Linked DNA regions of Homo sapiens: region 2 is linked to region 1. Evidence: fine-mapped expression QTL. Tissue or cell type: whole blood. Region 1 holds a variant in brackets; the other region holds the start of a gene. All regions are shown on one strand. Distances are from middle to middle.

Region 1 (2,680 bases):
AAAATGTCATTTTCAGAGGGCAAAGTGAGGAAGGTGCACCCTCAGGACATTCTTGCCTCAGCCTGGGGAAAGAGAGTTTAAGCAATTCCCCCAGAAAGGCACAGGAACCTCAGCCCAGAGAGGGGCAGCTTCCTGCCTCGGGTCAGGAAGCACAGCCTTGGGCTCCGAGAGTCCCTCGTCTCTACCTCCCCAAGTTCAAATGTGCATGCGTGAAGTTCCAAACCCAGCCCCAGTGCTAACCCCTGGCTGCCTCCTCTTTCTGACTTCTCAGGGAAAAAAAAAAAAACCACATACACACAAAAAATCCCACAAGTCAGGAAACATCCATCACGGGCTGTCCAGCCCAGGCCGGAGGGGCAGGAGTCAGCAGGGAGGTGACCTCAAGGTCTCCGTGGGGACTAGGATCCGGCGGGGCTGGGGGTGAGAGGCTGGAAATTTTCCCACCCCGAGACTTTCCTGCGTCAACCCAGGAGGGCGCCCTGGATGCCGCCAGCCCTGCCCCCAACCTCCTTCCTCTCCTGACAGGGCAGCTTCCCGGCTAAGGATGGATGGGGAGGGTGTGCCAAGATGGAGCCACCAGGACCAGGAATGGACAGGCACTTTGAGATTGACCAGACGAGGGACCCTGGCTCAGAGTGGCGAAGGCCTGGCCTCAGAGCCACACAGCCAGGAGGTGTACATGGGTTGGCGTCGCTCCCAGCACATGCAGCCTCCCTCTACCTCCACTACCCTGCCCAGGAGCTGGAGCCCAGCCCGGCCTTGGGTGTGTGAGAAGCCACTGGCCCGGGGCCCTGCTTCCCCGGTCCTTCCTCCCCACAACACACTCAGGACTCAGCCCTTCCTTGTGTTAAATAGAAACCTCTTTATTCTAAGTATCGAACGTTCCTTAATACATTGGATTGGGGCCAGACCTTGAGGTGAGGGAAAGGGGCGGGGGAGCTGGGATATTTCTGTAGAGACTTCCAGAACGACACTCACCACTCTGGGCTATGGCAGGAGGGGAGGTGCTGGGAACAGGCTTCATGGCCTTGGGAAAATGCTTTGTCTCTTTGGCCTCTGTTTCCCCCTACCTTTTTTTTTTTTTTTTTTTTTTGAGAAAGGGTCTTGCTTTGTTGACCAGGCTGGAGTGCAGTGGCACAGTCATAGCTCACTGCAGCCTCGAACTCCAGTGATCCTCCAGCCTCAGCCTC[A/G]CCAGTAGCTGGGACTACAGGCACACACCACCGTGCCCAGCTAATTTTTTATTTTTTGTAGAGATAGGGGGCAGGTCTCACTATGTTGCCCAGGCTGGTCTTGAACTCCTGGGCTCAAGCAATCCTCCGGCCTCAGCCTCCCAAAGTGTTGGGATTACAGGCATGAGCCACCGTGCCTGGCGTTTGTTTCCCTTCTGTACAGGGAGTTTGGGGTTGGGTGAAAAGACATCTAAGGGTCTTTCTATCCCAGGGGTGTGTGGTCCCAGGCAGGGAGTCAGGAGGGGCGCCGTACGGGAGGTTGGCTTGTCAGCAGCATAGATGGGGTCACTAAGGCCGGCGGTTGGGTGACCCTCAGCGCTGGGCCCGAGGTCGCGCTAGAGACGGAGGCCGGGGCCGAGGCAGACAGGCCAAACTGGGCCTGGCCAGCCGGGAGAGGGGGAGGCGGCCCAGGAAGAGAGGGAGGCTGAGACAGAAAGATGGGCGGGGCACAGGGATGTCTGCAAAGAAGGCACGGTCCCGAGGGGGTGACAGGGCTCCCTCCTCAGAGAGTTCCAGGTCCCGGGCCACGGCCAGGATCTCCTGGCGGGCGGCTGTGTTGCGCAGGCCACGGATGTCGAGGAGGGCTGCCACGTGCTTCTGCCTGTGGGGAGAGGAACAGACAGGTGCATGCAGATCCCCAGCTCTAGACACACACCCAACCCAGCCGTGGACCCCACCTGACCCCCTCACCTATCCCAGAAATTGCCTGAGTTCTGGGGCCTCTGTGTCCCCTCCAGAGCCTTCCCTCCAATCAGCTCCCTTGCCCAGGCCCTCACCTCATACCAGCTCCCTCCAGAACTTCACTTCCAACCATCTCCAAATCCCCCTTACAACCAACCCCAGAACCAGCCCTGGGATCTTCCTTTTCACCCCAAGCCTCAGCTCGTGATTAAAATTCACCTTCTCAGCTGGGTGCCGTGGCTCATGCCTGTAATCCCAGCACTTTGGGGGGCCAAGGCAGGCGGATCACCTGAGGTCAGGAGTTCGAGACCAGCCTGGCCAACATGGCGAAACCCTCTCTCTACTAAAAATACATTAAAAAAAAAAAAAAGCTGGGTGTGGTGGCAGGCGCTTGTAATCCTAGCTACTCAGGAGTCTGAGGCAAGAGAATCCCTTAAACCTGGGAGGCAGAGGTTGCAGTGAGCTGAGATCGCGCCACTGCAGTCCAGCCTGGGTGACACAGCGAGACTCCATTTCAAAAGTAAAAAAAAGAAAGAAACCTTGTACCCCACTCCCCCTAAATCCTCAGCCCTAGGTACCTCCTAATCTCAAGCTCAACCCCCTAAACCCAACCCAGCTAGCAAACTCTTAAACTTAGCTACAGATTCAAGTTCTGACTCATGATCCAATATTCAAGTTCAGAAACTCCACATCAGCAAGAATACTGGGACTTCTTGGGACCCCATGGGACTCCAGGAATATGTGCCTTCCCAAGGACATGACCTTATCCC
Region 2 (2,680 bases), 33 kb after region 1:
CCAGGTTGGTCAACTCCTGAGTTCAAGCGATCCACCTGCCCCAGCCTCCCAAAGTGCTGGGATTACAGTCATGAGCCACCACACCCAGCCTTGATTTCTCTTTCATCCTCTGAACTGGCATCCACATGCCTCATCCCAAAATGGCTCCATCATCCCCCCTCCACCCCATAACTGTCTCCATCTTCCTCTCAAAATTTCAGGCTCGAATTTCCCTCCAATTGAAGTCAACCTTGCCCGGACTACATCTGACTTTCCCCCACCTGGCTTCAATATCGCCTCCAAACTGGATCCAACATCCCCAAACCTGGCTGCAACATTTTCCCAAAACTGTCTCCGACGTCTTTCCCCTTCCTGGCTCCAACACCCGCCTCTGCAAACTGGTGCTGACATCCTGCCCCCTCCAACCCTCTGTCTGCCTCCCAGTGCCCAGCCCCTGACTCACTTCCGAGGCATCCCTCAAGCCCCCAGCCTCTCAGGCCCGCAGGATGTCTTGGCCACCAGAGCTTCCCTCTTTGAGCCCCTCCTCCTCTTCCTCACTGCCAGCCTTTTCCCCGGAGTCCCTAACCTTCTGCAGCGGCCCTGACCTCGGTTTGCGGAATCCATCACCTCCAACGCTCAGCATCTGTATTAGAGAACGGTCTTTCCATATGGCATGTCCCCAAGCCCAACCCCAACCAGTGCAACCCCAATCTAGTCCTTGACCCCAAACACAATCCTGTCATCAGCCCAGACCACTGCAAGCTCATCCACATCTCCAATCCCAACCTGATCTCGGTCTCTCCTGCTTGATCTCAATCCCTACCTGGTCCCTGTCTCCCATCTCCGAGACCCCATCTCTTGGGATAGAACAAATACCCGATCCTTCCTGGCCTCAGTCTTCCCGCCCAGACTCGCAGGACATTCGACCCAATGTCATCTCATCTCTATTCTCCTTTGGTGGCACCAAGGTTTCTAATGCTCCCTTGCACCCTTTGTGGACCCCGCGAGTCCTCAAATTCTCCCCTGCACCCTCCTCTCATTTTCATCTCCTTTCTGCCTTCTCGCCAGCACCCCTCTGGAGTCAGGCCCCAGATTCTCTCTTTGCCCCCAGCCTCTGCTGGGTTCAAGGTACAGGTTCTCATCAGCTCTGGTCCAGTGCAACTAAGGGCAACTGTTTTCCCAGTTGCCCTGGGGAAGGGGGACCCCTTCCCCCTGTCCCCAGCACACTCACCTCTGTCCTCCTGCCCGTCCTTCTGTTCCCGCTGCTGTCCTGTCCCCAGGCTACTTCAGCCAGGACTGCTGGGAGCTTGGATCTGAGTTGGGGGGGTGCTCGGAGGAGGACAATTTCCTGTCAGGAAACCCCTCCCTCTCTGGGGCCAGGGGCGGGAAGGACTCATTATCTGTCTGCCCTTTTAGGCCAGGCTGCGGTTGGGCTGGGAAGGCCGAGGCCCACAGCTGGGCCCCCACCCTCACCCCCGCTCCAGGCCGGAATCCGCCCACTCCTGCATGCTCTTCACGCCTCCCAAGGTGACAACACCATCCTGGGCGCCCCGGGGAGACACCCCAAGCTGGACGCCAGCCCAGAGCTGCTCTCCAGCATGGGCAAGCCCCGAGGCCTTAGAATGAGAACCGGGGGGCAGGCACGCATCTCTCTAGAGTTCCCTGCCACGGGCTGAAGACCAGGAGGGAAGTTTTGCTGGGCCCAGGGGCTGGGGAGGGGGACCTATGGAGGAGGGCACTGGACATGGCTTTGGAATTGTGGTTCTCTTTGTCTAGAAGCCCCTGTACCCAGGTCTCTGCATGAGGCCCTCCTTTTCATCATCCCAGTTCCAGCCCCACAGTCTCTTCCTCTGTTCTCCACTGTCCCGTCTCACAGAGTCGTCACTCTGCTTTGTCAATTTATTTTTCTTTTTTTTTTTCCTGAGACAGAGTCTTGCTCTGTTGCCCAGGCTGGAGTGCAGTGGCGTAACAATAGCTTACTGCAGCCTGGATCTCCCAGACTCAAGAGATCCTCCCACCTCAGCTTCCTGAGTAGCTGGGACTACAGGCATGCACCACCATGCCCAGCTAATTTTTGTATTTTTTGTAGAGACACGGGTCTCATTAGGTTCTCCAGGCTGGTCTCAAACTCCTGGCCTCAAGCCATCCTCCTGCCTCGGCTTCCCAAAGTGCTGGGATTACAGGCGTAAGCCACTGTGCCCAGCCTGTCAATTTCTTTATTGCACCTTCTACAATCTGAAATTATCAGATGCAACTGGATTCCTTGCAGATAAACTCAGCAAAGCTCACTTTGTTGATCCTGTTCATCTTTATAAGCCTAGCTGCGTGCCTGGCCCTCAGTAGTCAAGATTTAAATGAATTTAAATGAAGCTGAGGGTTGGAGGTGGGTTTGGAGATGGACTTCCTGCTAGAGTTGGGATGCCAAGTGAAGTGAGGGCTGGGGCTGGAGCTGGTGCTGGGTGGGGTTGGGTATGAGAGTCAGGGTTACTTTAAAAGGCTAGGGCCATGTGTGGTGGCTCATGCCTGTAATTCCAGCACTTTGGGAGCCAAGGCAGGGGGATTGCTTGAGCCCAGGAGATCAAGACCAGCCTGATAATATAGCAAGACCCCGTCTCTACAAAAAAAAAAATTTTTTTAATTAGCCAAGTGTGGTGGCACGCTGTAGTCCTAGTTACTAAGGGAGCTGAAGTGGGAGGATCAC

The links. PIP is the estimated chance that this variant, and not a neighbour inherited with it, causes the effect.
Region 2: EXOC3L2 starts here. The variant in region 1 is fine-mapped to the expression of EXOC3L2 in whole blood (INTERVAL, PIP 0.99).

Annotation. Positions count from the first base shown.
Region 1 is chr19:45,211,528-45,214,207 of GRCh38, forward strand. EXOC3L2 (exocyst complex component 3 like 2) reads right to left here. Exons shown (of 12, transcript NM_001382422.1): 12 at 843-1,830. The coding sequence ends at 1,542. It also overlaps a transcript of BLOC1S3 not described here. Among named protein-coding and RNA genes, the nearest start is that of EXOC3L2, 33 kb to the right of the region's middle. The variant A/G (reference allele first, on the strand shown) is at 1,191.
Region 2 is chr19:45,244,131-45,246,810 of GRCh38, forward strand. It overlaps EXOC3L2 (exocyst complex component 3 like 2), which reads right to left and starts at 1,277. Exons shown (of 12, transcript NM_001382422.1): 1 at 1,211-1,277. RefSeq lists an enhancer at 971-1,967.